2 separate regions of the Homo sapiens genome follow, and region 2 is linked to region 1. Evidence: fine-mapped expression QTL. Tissue or cell type: esophagus mucosa. Region 1 holds a variant in brackets; the other region holds the start of a gene. All regions are shown on one strand. Distances are from middle to middle.

Region 1 (8,000 bases):
TAGCCCAACACAGCAGAAAGAAAACCCTGGACTGAGGGGTCCCAGGAGAAGGCCTAGCCCATACCCTTGCCTCTACTTTCCCTCCCTGGGCCCCAATTTCTTGTCTGGAATGAATGCATTGAGTGGATGATCTCAGAGGTCTCTTATGATTATGATCTCAGAGGTCTCAGATAGTTTTATGATCCTAACCAAGACTCCCAGCTCAGGGCTGCTAAATTCTCAACTAGAATAAGTGACACATTTTTTCTTTAGCTTACACCACCTGCCCTATTAACTATGCCCTCAGGAAAATGAGAGGAGCAGGGAAGCCCTTCTCCCAAGCTGCAAAGACCCAGGAAGCAGGAGGCCAGCCCTCCCACACAGGCAGGGCTTGAGGCCTCCCCAGCATCACCAGCCACCGACCTTGGTCAGAGGCTGCAGCAGCTCAGGTGCTGGAAAGATCAATTTCAGGAAACTCACAAACCTGCCTCAGAAACCCTGCAACTCAGCAACCAGACAAACACTTTATGCAAAAGATGATGATGCACGTGGGAAAAAGTCTCAATCTACCCAATTCTTACTCTATTATGTTCTCTACACCTCTCACCTCCAGAAAAAAAGAACTCACATGGTATCAGCCTTCAAAAATAAAACAGTGGACACTTTTCCAGAGCAGCATCCTGCTCGTCCCCGCTCCTCTGTTCCTCTATCAAGAAGGCTGCGGAGGCCGGGTGCAATGGCTCACATCTGTAATCCCAGCACTTTGAGAGGCTGAGACTGGGGGATCACTTGAGCCCAGGAGTTTGAGACCAGCCTGGGTGATATAGGGAGACCCTGTCTCTACAGAAAAAAAAAAAAAAAAAAATAAGCCGTAAGTGGTGAAGGCTGAGGCTGGACAATTACTTGAGCCTAGGAGATGGAGGCTGCAGCGAGCTGTGTTTGCACCACTGCACACCAGCCTGGGCAGCAGTGAGACTGTTTCAAAAAATAAAAATAAAAAAGGAGACTATTTGTTAACCACCCTATGGGGTCTAATTCCACCCCATGAAATCTATCAGTCCTGAGACTGGGTCCAGCATCTGGCCTCAAGTGAATGCTGCCTTGCGCTGTTTGTGGGAATCTCTTCTTTTGCCCCAACTCAGCTGTAACCTCCTTGAGGGCAAGGGAAGAACCACGGATTTCTCCTTCTCCCCTGTAACCCCAAATGCAAAGGGGGATGTGGAATATTCACCGAGAGAACTAAGTTACAGAATCAGTCACAGGGTCTAGACAACCCCACGAATCAGCTACGTGAGTTTGGCTAAGCCGTTTAACTTCTATGAGCCTTAATTTTTTCCTCAGGTATAAAATGAGGATAATATCATCTACTGTGTGACATGTAAAAATTAAGTAAGACTGTGCATATAAAAATGCTTACACCATGACCGCTACATGGTAGGCACTGGATAAATGCTTGTCCCCTGTTTTGTGCTGGCCTGAACCACAAAGACCTAGGAAGTCCAAGGGGCCTTCTCACAAGTCTAAAAGGGCGCATATGTAGGTGAAGGGACATGGGGAACAACGTGACCCTCTGGCCCGAGACACTACCACACCCTGGGGGGCAGGGAAGCCAAGCCCGTGAGCAACTGGACTATCCAAGCAGGCAACTCTGAAGAACAGAGACTAAAACAGGAGAGCCCCCACCCACACACTGGCTGGGGTCCGCAAGTCTGGTCTGTCTCTACTGTAGATAAATCACTCATGTTCACAACAGGACCCTGCAGGCACACTTAATGAGAAGAAAGGAAGAAGGGAGAGGGGACAGAGTAAAGGGAGGCACAAGGAGGAAGAGGAGGGAGAAGAAACAAGAGCTGACAGGGTGAAATCTGGGCTGCTCTTTCCAATCTCCAGCCCCTCTGGTCCATGTTTGTTTGTAACAATAATCATTGTGCAAATATGGAGAGCAGCAGAAAGGGAAGAGGGAGCGCAGAGTGGGAAGAAACACAGCAGCTGGAGACATGCTGCTCCGCTGGCCTGCTTCCCACGCCTGCACTGAATAGCTGCAAGCTTGCAGCGGTCACTTGGCATCGGATACAGGAAGGTCTTCGATGCATTCCAGCTGGTTCGCGCTACTAGTCACTCCGCCGGGTGGGTGTGTTTCACCGGGTGTGCTCAACCCAAAAGTGCCACGATGTCCAGGCTGGATTTCAGCAACTACAATGTACATGCGAGTCTCTTTCGGTCTCTCAGGAATTGCACAACCTCAGCCAGGTGCGGTGTAATCCCAGCACTTTGGGAGGTCGAAGCGGGCAGATCACCTGAGGTCAGGAGTTTGAGACCAGCCTAGCCAACATGGCGAAACCCTGTCTCTACTAAAAATACACAAATGAGCCGGGCGTGGTGCTGCATTGCCTGTAATCCCAGCTACTTGGGAGGCTGAGGCAGGATAATAGCTTGAACCCAGGAGGCAGAGGTTGCAGTAAGCTGAGATCGCGCTACTACACGCCAGCCTGGGCAACAGAGGGAGACTCTGTCTGGGAAAGGTGGGGGAAGGAATTGCACAATCTCTTCTGGGCTGTGTGCGAGGGCAGGTGGCTCTGCTGTGTCTAGCGGCTCTGTGTGTACGAGGCATGCCCACCACCATCGGAATGGAACATCTGCGTGGTTCCCTCTCCCCTTCTCCTCCTCTCCCAACCACACACAACTCAGTACACATTCTATGTGGCAGCTGGGGTTCAATTCAAGAAGCTGCTGGTCTGGAGCCAATTTGGTCCTATAACAAATGATATGGGAAACATCTGGAGATGTAGCAGGAGAGAAATAAGCCCTGCCCCTCACGGCAGGAGCACACACATCACATGTGGTTGTCACACAAAAATACTGGCTTCAGGGGTCTCCACTGGTCATCAGAAGAGGCATTAGTTCCATTCAGCCTCTCCTTGCCTCCCATGTGACTGCTTGAGGTGATCAAGGCCACTCTCTACCCTGCTGCTGGTGACATCTCACTAAGGCACAGGCCCTGCTTACAGCCTGCAGCGGTTCCCATCAGCCCTGACTAAATGCCAAGTGGTCTGGCTAGCTTGAAGGTCCACCACACTGGGACCCCTGTGTGGCAGGCCCTCCCATCTTCTCCCCACTGGAGAGAGTGTATCCTCCAGCCACGCTGAGCTCCCTGGGCTAGACACTCTCTGGACTCCAGACACACTGAGCTCTTACTGTCCCCAGAATGCACCAGGCTGTCCTGCCCAACCCCCATGACTCTGCCTGGCACACCCCTTGCCCACTCTAACAGCTTGGCTAACACTTACACATCACCAAGACTCAACCTGGGGAAAAACCTGGACTGCAAGGTGCTGCTCCTCCCCAGACCGGGTGAAGTGGCCCTGCTGTGTGCCTGGTGCCATGCGGCATCTTCCATCAGGGCATACACGAGATGGCCCAGTGACTACTGACTGTCCTGTCAATCTCCCCCATCATCTGTGAGCAGCTCGGACCCTCTTCTATGCCCTGCCCCTTGCACATCGCGGTTGCTCTACAAATACTGGAGAGAGAGATAGAAGGGAGGGAGGGAGAGGGCGAAGAGGAAGGGATGGAAGGGATGAACCCACCAGCTGCTAATCAGTTAAGAATAAGAGCATGACCCTGCATGACTGACCTGCGTCCATGCTGTGGTTCATCTGGTGGTCACTGGTTTCTCCATCTTCACTCAGGTAGCCAGGGGGTGGGGTCTCTGGGAATCAGAAGGAAGGTGGTCTGTTAAAAGGCCTTCACAGCTTGGCTCTGAGACACCTTTTGCAAAGACATCACACATGCACACCATGATGCTAGCATCCGTGGCTGTAGGAGCTCCAGGTCTTGGAGTAGAGGTTCCAGCTCTTGGTTCTGTTGTCCTCGCCCCTGTCCACCTCTGACTCCCGCTTGGATCATAACTGCCTTTGCTCACGCAGGACCGGATCAACTCCCAAGTCTGAAATGTGTACTCCTAGAGCCTCTGCCAGGCTAACTTATCCTGGTCCTTCAAGGTGAGGGTTAAGCCCCACC[C/T]CCTCCAGGGAGGCGTCCAGACTTGCCTCCGCCTCACCCCTTTCTGTCCTCTGAAGATCTGCAGGCTCAGACCCACCCTTTGGTCCCTACTATCTTCTTCTGTGCAGACCAGGTGTTATTATTTGTTGTCTCTAAGGGACGTGTCCTCACTCAGCAGTTAGGTTGCAAGTTCAATGACGGCAAAGACAGTGTGATCTATTTCTCTGAAACCTCCCCCAGACCCTGACTGAAGCCCTCCAAGATTTGCTCTTTGAACAGGGAGTAGTTGACTTACCCGCGGGACGCCAGGGCTACCCGCAAAGGATCTGAGAAGGTTGGACAGTGGGTCTCCTCCTTAACACTCTGACCCAAGCACACAGGCCTGTAGCCAATCTCAGCCCAGTAAACTAACCCAGGATGAACGTCACGTCCAAATTAGAATGCTCTAAGAGGAACGCAGCAGGATTACTGCCCCAGCAAGCAAAAGTGACTAGCCCAAGTGCTGCCAAGCACAGCTTTCCTGGAGTCTGAAAGTGCTGGTGATTCACACGTTATTTGCATGTAAATGAGGGGCTTCTAAAAACATTTGCAGTCTTTGACGGCAAAGCCCATTTCTCCCTGCAGAGTGAAAACTCAAAGTCACTTCAATTCCCACCCAGGTTGGAGCCCCTCACCGAGGCCTGATGCCCAGGCGAATTTACAGAGCCAGCTCTCCGCACTTGCTGCCTGGCCCTCAGCTCACTCCCCGCCTCTGCAGACCCCCAGTCTATTGGGACTGAACACCAGTCCGGGCCTCAAGGGCGGTGAGAGAAACAGTGTTGCTATTTCCGCTTCCAAAATAAATGACTGCACCAAGGCCGGGCGGAAGGGTCACGCTGCTCCTCTATGCCAAGAAAAGCATCACTAGTGAGGGGGGAGCTGAGGTCATGGGTCCTCTCCCAACAGGGATGCGGTTCTGAGTCAGGGGCCCTCAGGCCAGAGCTGTGCGCAAAGAGGGGGTGAGCGGGGGACGGCCAGGGGGCAGAGATTGGGGCCACAGGACTGATGTCGGGGCTGACCGCTGCCCCTGCCTCCCAGGCCAGCCTGTGCCGCCCACGTGCCTACCTGGAATATTGCTCTGGGGCTCGATGCCTGCGGGGAAGTTAGTGTTTTCGGGGATGGAATGGCTGTAGTCGTCCAGTGGGGGGAACTCGGCCGGGATCTCTGTGTGGCGTGGCACCAACACAGGAGGTAGAACTGTCCGGGGGAGACAGAGCAGAGGTGGCTCAGTGTCGATGCCAGACCAGCACCAAAGTCCCCGCACCCCCAAGTGCACCGCAGACCCTCGGGGGGATGGGGAGCCGGGGAGAGGTGATGACCCCTGGCACCTGCTGTCCCCACAGGCAGGCCAGGCAGCATACCTGGTGTCTCTACTCTCTGGTAGTGGTAGGGATTCACGCAGACCTCGTCCTTCTTCATATTGAAGGCGAACTCACACAGCTCCATGGCCCGTAGCTCGTGGTGGCTGTGCAGGTCTGGCCATCGCCACAGGCGGCAGTAGATGACATGAGGGAGCCCCTTCCGATGGGACACCTGCAACCGGCCATCCAGGGACCTGCCAGGACGGGGAGGGGCAGAAAGAGAGGGAAATGTGGATTGTGCTTGCTTTCTGCAGAGTCCGGCCTCCTACTTTCAGACACTTGGAAAGCTCTCTCTCCCCTCATTTCTCCCAGATCCAGAGGTCCAGGAGATCAGAGCACTGCTAGCTGAGAGTGCTGGGAGGGATCTCAGGAGAAGACAACAAAGGCCCCGTGAGGACTCCCAGCTGGCAGAGCGGGCCTCACCCACCAGTCCCCGGTGGGTTCCCCAACTTTGTACTGCTCTTCAGGGAGTGGCATTCCATGGGAAGGGCCCGCACTTCAGTCACTTCAGTTGTGCTTGGAAAAGGTCCAGGAGCCACTCATCGGCTTCCTACTCAGCCCAGAGGTGTGGAGAGGGGACAGGGCTGGGGAAGACAATGAGAGTTCTTTAGGCACAGATATGAGGACTACAGTGATCCAAAGAAGAGTGACAAAGTACAAAGGCTGTCTCCCCTCATTCACTCAGGTCTTCCCTTGCACATTAGAAAGTCAGGGGAAAAAAAGAAAACTTGCCTTTCCTCCTCTTTTTTTTTTTTTTTTTTTTTTTTTTTTTCTGAGACGGAGTCTCGCTCTGTTGCCCAGGCTGGAGTGTAGTGGCGCCATCTCGGCTCACTGCAAGCTCTGCCTCCCGGGTTCATGCCATTCTCCCGCCTCAGCCTCCTGAGTAGCTGGGACCACAGGCACCCGCCACTACGCCCAGCTAATTTTGTTTTTGTATTTTTAGTAGAGACGTGGTTTCACTGTGTGAGCCAGGATGGTCTCGATCTCCTAACCTCGTGATCTGCCCGCCTCAGCCTCCCAAAGTGCTGGGATTTCAGGCGTGAACCACCGTGCCTGGCCCCTCCTTTCTTTTTTAGTTATTTGTGGTGAGCAGGGAGTGAAAGACGGAAATTAAAGGGATTTTTTTTTTTTTTTTTTTTTTTTTACTTTTGATACAGGGTGTTGCTCTGTCACTCAGGCTGGAGTGCAGTGGCATGATCTCGGCTCACTGCAACCTCCGCCTCCCAGGCTCAAGTGATCCTCCCAGCTCAGCTTCCCAAGTAGCTGGGACTGCAGGGGCACACTACTGTGCCTACTTACAATTGGCCAGTGCCATGACCCTGTGTGAACCATGTCTTCTATGGTGATTTGGCCAAGCAGCTATGACCCGGTGCCCTTACCTCTCAAGCCAGGCCAAAGTGTGGTCCCTGACCAGCAGCAGAGGTTCAGGGAAGTTTGTTAAAAATGTACATTCTCAGCGCCTACCCCAACCTACTAAATCAGAATCTTTCCCTTTGTGAAATCCCCAGGTGATCTGGATGATGAGAGTCTGGGTGGCTTACAGGAAAGGACTGGGGAGCTTGGGGCGGCAAAAGCATTGTCAGCTACAGGCAAGGCTGGGAGGCAGAAGGCTTCTGGAGGGACGTAAAACTTCAGATAGTGTCTGGTATTAGACAGGTGAGGAGGTGCCACTAAAATGGAGTCCCTTATTTAACACATATTTAATGAGCACCTATTATGTGTGACACTAAGGATACAGTGGTAAGGAAAGAGACTTCACTATGAGAAAAGGCCAGCAAAGTGGTCCCTGTCTGCAGGGACCCTCCATTCCACTGGGCAAGACCGGCATTAATCAAATAATCACCAAAACCACTTTGGGAGGCCGAGGCGGGTGGATCGCTTGAGGCCAGGAGTTCAAAACCAGCCTGGCCAACATGGTGAAACCCTGTCTCTACTAAAAGTACAAAAATCAGCCAGGCATGGTGGCGGGCGCCTGTAATCCCAGCTACTCAGGAGGCTGAGGCAGGAGAATCACTTGAACCTGGGAGGGGGAGGTTGCAGTGAGCCAAGATTGTGCCACTGCACTCCAGCCTGGGCGACAGAGCAAGACTCCGTTTCAAATCATCATCATCATCATCATCATCATCATCATCATCATCATCACAGAAACCTACAATTACACACAATGAAAGTGTCCTGAACGAAAATAACAAGGAACCCCAAGAGTGTATGACCATGGCACCCCACTTTGCTGAAGGACTGGACAGGGCATCTCAGAGGAGGTGATGGTTGACCTGAAGGCCTAAAGGGTAAGTAAGAACTAACCAGGCAAAGGGGTGCGGGAGAAGGGCAGTACAAGCAGAGGGAAAGGCACACACAAAGGCCCTGTGGAAAGTGGAAAACATGGTGAGGTCGGAAGAACAGAATGAAGGCCAGAAGGACTGGAGAGGGGATCATGAGAGAGAGCTGGCTTGAGACGAGGCCGGGGAGGCAGGCAGGGGTACTCTGCAGGGCCCCAAAGGCCATGATAAAGGCTTCTCCTGTTTTCTAAAAGCAGTATGTAGCCTCTGAGATGTGTAAGTGGGCTGTGCATACGTGTGAAAGAGACAGGCCCTGTGGAACTCTGGCTACGTGTGACCAACA
Region 2 (8,516 bases), 100 kb after region 1:
ACTCAGGTACTCAAGCAGGTGAGGCATGAGAGGCTGTTATAAAACTTGTGTAAATTCTGCCAATCCTGCCAGACCTCAGAGTATCCTGACAGCCCCTTTGTTGGTGTATCTAAATGAAGCTCTTACCACTTCCTTGGCACCAATCTCTTTCACCTTCTTTATGTCGATAAGTGTGTATCACGCCAGCTCCCCTGATAATTGAAACAAGTCAGAGCTGGTGTCACAGAGAAGCAAGCCTGTGGTCTGGAAGTCCCTAGTATACAGCTCTAATTGCCAAATGTTGCTGTTGCTGCTCATGATTATATATTAGCCAAAACACACTTGGCTTAATCTCCTTAGACTGAGGGCTCCTTAAACCCCGGAGTCCAGATCTTGCAGAGTGTTTTTAAGCACCCAGTGACCAACCCCCCACACACAGGGGGAATGACTAAGTTAAACATTTTCCTTTCTCTACTTTCCAAACTAAAAGGCAGTTGTGGTGAAAGCAGACAATTTGACAAGCAACACTGCAATCTATGGGGCTTAGCAGACACATTGATATCACCAGCACAGGGCCAAACCAGCCACCTCCCCAAGACGTGGCCTTTAGTTTTCTGCCCACGACCAAAACAGCAGCAGCTGTTGCCAAGGGACACAAGGTGACCCAGAGGCGTGGGCACAAAATCCAAGGATGAAAATCCATTTTGTCTGGATCCACCCAAGCAACTGGGTTTCCCTAACTGAAAAAAAAGATGAAAAAAAAAATCTACTTTTGTATTCAGTCCTATCCAGGCAGGCAGAAGATGCCTCAGTCCTAACAAAGTCACGAGAAGGCCACAGGGCAGGTTGGCTTGAACTCTCAGAATCATCCAAAGCGTTCACACGTCTTAGGCTTCCAAAGTCTCAGCAGGACTTTGGAAGAGGAAAAGGCAGGCCAAAGGTATGGCCCCACAGAGGACAAACTCCTACCAAGGCAAGGGAAAGCAAGGCCTCTCTGCCAAGCTATCACCAGCCCAAAGATTAAAGAAGCAACCGCACATACAAAGATCCACAGGGCCCTCCCCAAGCTAACACAGCTTTAGCATTCAGCAAAGAATGTATTCAGGATCTTCAAAGTATAAAGCAGCATGGGGCAGCAGAAAGAGCACATTCAGGCAGAACCCCATGTCTATGACTCAAGCCTTTTCACCTCTCTCTTTTAAGGTTTCCTCTGCTTTAAAAATGTGATAATCTTAAGCCTAACAACCTTATCTACTTTCCATGGCTGGTTGCTTGCTTGCTTTCTGTCTTTTTTTGAGGACCTCAGAAAACCATGTGAAAGTGCTTTGTAAACTGTGAAACACTTTTCACAGCTGCCTGTTTTACAATTGATACCACTTTTTTTCTTCTGTTTCAATACATAAAGCACTTGTCTTCAATGCACCCAGGCAGATAAGGAGAAGGTAGGTTTGGCAGACCCCTCCCCAGAAAGAGAAGTAGCATACTCACCCACTCTACCCTAGCCACCCCCACGGAAGGAATACAGAAGAATTAACAACCAGAGCTGGAACCAAATCCCAGGTCTCTCTGACCATCACATCACACCACCTCCTCTGAAGTCAATTCTGGCTCCCGATCACACGCCCAGAGACTTCCCCAGACAGCACACCGCCTTCCCTCCCCCTTTATTGACTGGATCCACCCAGTTAAAAAAAATTTAAGTCCGCACTCCCACCATATGTGGCATTTATTTCCAGGGGAGGCCTGCCCTCGGTTCCCGTGGACAGATGTTGCTTTGTGCCTGCCTGACTCGCCTGGCAGCCCCTGTACAACTGCCCCAAGCAGGTGGCCAAGGATGGAGTCCACCCTGGCCCAGGAGCAGGGATGACAATCCCTTTGCGGCTGACAGTCCCTGGTGCTTTCTACTCATTCCTCGGCAGCCTGGGACCCCCAAAAGAGCCAGCCCCCAACACACACGCTCTCTCCCTTGGTTCAGCATCAAAGGAGGCTGAGAGGTAGAGACAGGAAGCCAAGGTACCCGCACCCCCAGTTCCCAGCCAGGCACATCTAAGCTAAGGAAGGCCCTGGGGGAGTGAAGTCACTGACCCCTTCTATCAGCCATCTGTGGGCTCCCGCCCGACCTAGCTAGCGCGCAACGGGAAGGATAAAGGAGATCCAGACAGATGGCAGCGCGCTTTGGGAAGGAAGGCTCTACAGGAATGCGAGGGCCGATGCGAGGCCCACTTTGGGGTGTGTTTTGTTATCTGCCCGGCTGCAGCCTGCCCCTCTCCCTCGTTCTGCACGGTTTCAAAATCTCTTGGACCAAAAGAAGGGCAAAAGAGTCGGGATGGGGGGGTGGGAGGTGGGAGAAGACCCTATTTTCCGCCACTTGTCTCTCCCATTTGGAAGTCAGAGCATTGCACTGCAACCAAAGTGCGTGCATGCTCAGGGGGCGGGAGACTGGCACAACCGAGTCTAAAAATACTCGATAAAAATGCTAATCCCGAAGGCAAAGAAAGAACGAAGAAGGAATCTGTCAATCACTAGGCTCCCGCTCCTCACCCACAGCCCCAGCTGTACGGACCGCATTCCTGTAGAGGAAAGTGGGGAGACCCGACTGAAGAAAAGAAACGCAAAGACACCACCACCTCCACGAGCGCGGGCCGCGGGGGCGGGAGGCGGCGGCGGAGGAGGGGCTCCGGCCCGCGGAGCCGAACAAAGCGGGCCTCAACTTCCAGCCCCAGCTCCCCGGAGTGGGGGCGGCCGAGTCCCGCAGCAACCCGCTCTCCCCTCCCGGAGGTGGAAAGGGAATGTGAGGTGTGGAAGCCAGAGTGCCGCGTGGAAGCCTCGGGCTCTGATCTTTGCAAATCAGAGATGGTTTTGTTTGGGGTCCCCCCACCCCCTTCCTGCCCGCGCTCTCCCACTCTCACACACACGCACCCACACAGTCTCACTCCCTCCCTCTCTCTCCCTCTTCCCATCTCCAGCCCCACTGGGTCGGCCCCGCAGTGCCAGGGGGCTGGGCCGGCGTGACCCCGGGTCCCCCCCGGGCGGGCCCCCACCTGGGGATGGTGATGCACTTGGTGTTGACGTTCTGCGTGGTGATGGCCTTCTCCAGCTCGTCCAGCTGCCCCGTCTTCTTGAGTTTCTTGACCAGGCTCTTGACCGCCTTCTCGCACCATTTCTCCTCCTGCCCGTTCTGCTCGCCCTTCTTCCAGCCCAGCAGGCGCTTCACGATCGGGGGAGTGAAAGGCAGGATGGACGACATGGCTGGGGAGGGCGCGCGGGCGGCGAGGAGCGCCCCCGGCGGGGCTGGGCTCGACGGGACGCCGGGGGCGCAGAGGGGAGCTCGGCCGGGGCCTGCCGCGGTCGCCCAAACTTCGCCTCAACTCTCGGCGAAGTTGCCGGGGCGCCGGGCCGGGCCGCGGCGCTGCAGCCTGCGGGGCTCGGCGCGCGGCCCTGCGCCCGGAGCGGCTCCCACGGCGAAGAGAAGAGCGGCCGGGCGGGCGGACGGCAGCAGTGCAGGGTCGGGAAGGCCCCGAACGCGGGGCGGAGGCGGCGGCCGCGAGACTCCAAGTGGCAGCAGAAGTTTGGGTTTCCGCACGGGGTAGCTGTTTGGGTGCCGCCTCCGGGAAGGAAAGTCCAACCCCCGGCCAAACTTCGCTCGCCTCGCTAGCTTTGATGCGCAGATCCCTCCGCCTCTGCGGCCTCACCGCCCCGCCACCCTCCTCCTCCCGGCTCGCCGCTCGCTCGCTCGCTGGCTGGGCCGGCCCGGGGCGTGCGCCGCGCTCCCGCTCCCGCCCGCTCCCAGTCTGTGTTTCATGCAAATCCGCGTGCAGCCTCCTTTCCAAGTGCTGTCACCGCCCCCTCGCCGCCGGGGCTCCCCGCCTCCTCCCCCGCGCCCCGCCACCTCCTCCCGCGGGCGCCCTGCCCGCCCCCTGCTCCGGGGAGGGCGCCCGGCCGGCCACCACCCCGCGCCCAGCACGCCCACGTGGGCGACCCGGGCGGCGGCAGTCCTGGCTGGAGCGCGCGGGACCCTGCGCGGCCCCGACCTGAAGTCGGGCGGGCGCGGGGAGGAAGTCCTGGGAAACACGGCGAGAGGGGCCTCGGGCGGGAGGGCTGAGCGCGGCCCGTGGCGTCCGCTCTCGGAGTCCACACTCGGGCGGCTCGGTTGGAGTTGCGGGCCGGAGAGGGTTGGACTCGCAGCAAGTAAGCGTCGTCCGGACGCGAGTGCACCCTGGAGAGGACCCGAGCCCGAGAGGGGGCGCGCGGAAGGCCCGGGCCCAGGAAGTTGGGGCCCGCACTTGGCCTCGCGCTTGCTGATCCCCGTCAAGGCCCTTGGCCGGCGCCGGCGCCCCTGGGCTGTTTTTATTCTCTAGTCGGTGAGATCACACCGGCCGAGAGCCTCGGGAACGTGTGCGGAGGAGGAGGGGGTGAGAAGTGGGTCCTCAGAAGTGGAGAGCTGGGGACACCAGTGACAACCTGGACAATGGCTGGAGCCAGGGGTCTCTTGAGCCTTGTGAACCGAGTGCCCGGCAGAAAATGAGCCTCAAGGACATCTGTTGAGTTCTTGAAGGAATGAATGGAGGGGCTTTCGAATTTATCTTTGAAAGAAATTTACATAACAGGGTGTTTGTTGCTGGATCTCCTGATAGAGAAGGATCGGAAATTTGATAATTGCCAATAAATGGAAGAGAGTTTTGTTTCCAAAGCAATGAACTCACAAAAAAGTGGGGCAAGACAGGAGTTTTCGGAGAGTTTGTGTATTCAAAAAAAGCAAAACAACAACAAACCAATTGGCACATTGGGGAGCTCCGCGGCTTTTCTCCCCACCAAAAGAATTCAGGGGCGTCTGCCCGCAGGGCCCTCGGCGGTTTTCAGGAGCTACTCCAGGCCCCTCGGCCTTTCTCTTGCTGCCTCCCGCAGCCGACTAGCCGGTGTCTAAGCCCTTTGTTTGTTTTTAACAGCAGGAATCTCCCACCCCCACCCCTGCTTTGTTAAAAAAAAAAAGTTATCTGGAACCCTCAAGTGGGTGGGGAGTTACAAAGCCCTGTGAGGTGTGGCGGAATCCACAGTCAGCCCAGAAGCGGCAGGGGCCCTTGCCTTGCTCCGGAGAACCGCCTCCCACAAGCCAATCCGCAGCTGCTGCTGCAGAAGTGCGCTGTGCTCCTCACCCTCCTCTCTTCCTAAATACCCGCCTGAAAAGGAGAATACGTGAAAGCCAACTGAGGCTTGACAACCTGGCTTCCGTTCCTTGCTGGTCCTCCTGTTAACGCGCTGCCGCTGTGGTCTTAGGTTTCACTCTCCTCTTCCCGTCCGTCAAGAGAGACAAGGATGACACAATCCACATTTATTGATTGCTTTCTTCATTCCGGGTAGTCCGCCTGCTGCCCTTTGATTCAGTCTTAACAGTGGTTGGTGAGGTAGATGTTCCTGTGCCTCACGTTTACGGAGGCACAGAGAGATTACATTACTTACTCAGGGTTCCAAGTGGCAGAGCTGGAATTTGAACCCAATACTTTGTTGAAGCCTCAGTCTCCGATCTTGAGACTGCACCCAGCTGCCTGGGTCACGGAAGGCAAAGATGACATCATTGATCGAGCTCTTTGCAAAACAGTTCTCTACACGGGCACACTGTTGTAACACTGCAAGGATTATTTGCTCACCTGTAAAATGGGGCTAGAGGTAGCTTCCCTCGCGATCTCCTAGGGTGGCTGTGGGAAGCTCATGTGAAAAGGTTTGCATTGCTAATGCCATGAAAAGTGGTGGAGGGAGGTCAAATAAGTTTAACACACATTGACGGAGCAGCTCTGAGTTGCAGCCCTCCTATTCAGTTCCTGAACTTCCAAAATAAAAGACTAAGGTTTTCAAGGCGTTCACAGCCTAGAGAAGCATCAAAGGGTGGGGATGAGGATGATGTGACTGAGTGGGCAAAGATGGGCAGGGGCCTTGCAGTCATCATCGTCCAGTAAAGTGTTAATCTTAACCTGAACAAGTCCAACCATTGAGAGGTAGCCAAAGAAAGTAAGAGGGGCTCAGGATCCATCAGTGACTGGCCTGGCTTCCAATCCCGGCTCTTTCTCTTCTTCCCCTTGGGCAGCGTCCGTTCTCTCCGCTGTAAGAATGGAGCAAGCGGTTCTCACTGTGCAGAGTGGTGGATCCAGAAAGAGCATTGTAACTGTCCTCCTGTAGTTCAAGTCCTTTATGTTACAGAGAGAGCAATGTCTGCTGAAGGAGAGTGATTTGCACTGTAGAGGAAGAGCGTCAGAGAGATTTGAGGATTACATGTAGTAGAAGGACCTGACAGGTACTTCACCCTGTAAAATCATGGTATGGGAAGGGGCCCTCATTCAGCCCTCTCATTTTCCTGAGGGGAGGAAATAACTAGGCAGCCAGCTAGTTAGTGTGGCAGAACCATGCTTCCCTGCTGGCATCCGTGTGACAAGAACAGCTGTGCATGCAGAAAAATAGTGCTGGACCCACCTACAAGTCTAATAAGTGCCATTTCTGGGCTAGTTCTTTCTCCTCAGGCCTGTTTCTCCAAGAGAAGTCCCTCCACTGGGGGACTAAGTCCAGTTTCAGAAAGCTCTGAGGAGGGCTGAGGAACTGATTCTTCCAGTGCTGAGAAGACCCTGCATGTTCTCTTGATCTTGACTTTGGGCAGTGAATGGGTGGGCTGCTCTGGATGGGTACAACTCTGTTCTGGCACCTGGTCTTTTGGGGCCCAGCCATACCTGCTTTTGCAGAGGTTGTCCTTGGGAGGGAAACATTAGCCCAGTTAATTTTTCACCATGGTAAGTGCAAAGTTCAGGAGAGGTGGGATGGAAGTGGAGACAGCAACTGTTTCCCTGGGAATAGTCCATCCTATGAACAGTTCACCTCGTGAATAGACACATCAGAGGGTTTTCGTGTATTTGGAGTGGCTCCCAGGTAGGCCAGCCACTCCAAATACACGAAAGAAACAAACACCTGACTTCAATTCTGATTATTTTCCCATTAGCTTAAGGGTATTTAATCAACAAGTAGTGAATCTAGAAAAAGCATTAAAATCATCTTCATCTTACACAGACAGAAAGTGATGTCTGTAAGGGAAGGTGATTTGCACTGTGAAGATAAGTAGCCAAATCAGGACTAGAACTTTTATCAGAGTGCCCTCACCTAAGAGAGAGCCTCTGTCTACAGTCAGATCTCTACCTATAGCTCTTTGTAACACCTTACACGTGTGAGCTCTTCTGTGGCACCAGAATGACCTGGGTTAAACTTCTACCTCTTCCACTTCCGGCTGTGTGACTCTGGGCACGTTCCTTAACTCTGTGTGTGTCAGTTTTCTCATCCATAAAATGTGATAATTACAACACCTTCTTAGGATTGCTGTATGGAATCAGATTAAATCATATAGAAAGCTTGGTACAAGCACATAGTAGGTTCTCAATATACATGGATGTGATTCATGCATACTATAAAGTGCTATGCAAAAGTGAGAAGCAATGAATTCCATGTACATAAAACAAATGTATAGATTTTAAACACAGTTCCAACAGAAAATAGTAAGACACAGAGGGAAAGGAATAGCATAATGCTACTATGTAAAACAAATTACATATACACAAAATAATTATATACATTTTGAAAGAAGTTATACAAATAAAAAGATATACATTGAACCACTTCACATCCATTAGGATGGCTATTATCTTTTTTTCTTTGTTTTTGAGATGGAGTTTCGCTCTTGTTGCCCAGGCTGGAGTGCAATGGTGCCATCTTGGCTCACTGCAACCTCCGCCTCCCGGGTTCAAGCAATTCTCCTGCCTCAACCGCCTGAGTAGCTGAGATTACAGGCATGTGCCACCCACGCCTGGCTAATTTTGTATTTTTAGTAGAGACGGGATTTATCCATGTTGGTCAGGCTGGTCTCAAACTCCTGATCTCAGCTGATTCCTCCCACCTTGGCATCCCAAAGTGCTGGGATTACAGGCGTGAGCCACCGCGCCTGGCCAGCTATTCGCTTTTAAAAAACAGAAAATAACATGTTGGAAAGGATGTGAAGAAATTAGAATCCTTGCACATTGCTGGTGAAGATGTGAAGTAGTGCTGCCTCTGAGGAAAATGCTGTGGTGTATGTATGGCAGTTCCTCAAAAAACTGAGCAGAATTACCATATGATCCGGTCATTCTGTTTCTGGGGATATACCCAAAAGAATTGAAAGCAGGGACTACGAGTATTTCCACACCCATGTCCGTAGCAGCCTTATTCACAACAGTCAAAAGGTAGAAGTAACTCAAGTGTCCATCAATGGATGGGTGGAAAAACAAGATGTATTGTAGTCACACAATGGAATTTTTAAATTTTATTTATTTATTTATTTAGAGACAGAGTTTCGCTCTTATTGCCCTGGCTGGAGTGCAGTGGCGCGATCTTGGCTCACTGCAACCTCCACCTCCCAGGTTCAAGTGATTCTCCTGCCTCATCCTCCCTCGTAGCTGGGATTACAGGTATGTGCCACCACACCCAGCTAATTTTGTATTTTTAGTAGAGATGGGGTTTCACCATGTTGGCCA

Direction of the effects. Positions count from the first base shown, and alleles are read on the strand shown. Sizes are in standard deviations (SD) of each study's normalised expression.
For the expression in esophagus mucosa of the gene that starts at base 3,779 in region 2, T is the low allele of the variant in region 1 and C is the other (small effect, 0.40 SD a copy in GTEx).

Evidence for each region. PIP is the estimated chance that this variant, and not a neighbour inherited with it, causes the effect.
Region 2: it holds the start of SMAD3, and the variant in region 1 is fine-mapped to the expression of SMAD3 in esophagus mucosa (GTEx, PIP above 0.99).

Annotation. Positions count from the first base shown.
Region 1 is chr15:67,162,467-67,170,466 of GRCh38, reverse strand. It overlaps SMAD3 (SMAD family member 3), which reads right to left. Exons shown (of 9, transcript NM_005902.4): 2 at 5,379-5,572; 3 at 5,083-5,214; 4 at 3,614-3,688. Among named protein-coding and RNA genes, the nearest start is that of SMAD3-AS1, 20 kb to the right of the region's middle. RefSeq lists enhancers at 1,603-2,272, 2,273-2,944, 2,945-3,614. The variant C/T (reference allele first, on the strand shown) is at 4,000.
Region 2 is chr15:67,060,865-67,069,380 of GRCh38, reverse strand. SMAD3 (SMAD family member 3) reads right to left here and starts at 3,779. Exons shown (of 9, transcript NM_005902.4): 1 at 3,021-3,779. The coding sequence starts at 3,226. SMAD3-DT (SMAD3 divergent transcript) reads left to right here and starts at 5,199. Exons shown (of 6, transcript NR_135686.1): 1 at 5,199-6,265. RefSeq lists silencers at 2,563-2,652, 2,673-2,732, 2,983-3,032, 3,183-3,342, 3,513-4,002, enhancers at 2,453-3,221, 4,761-5,531, 6,689-6,833 and a cis regulatory region at 6,755-6,768.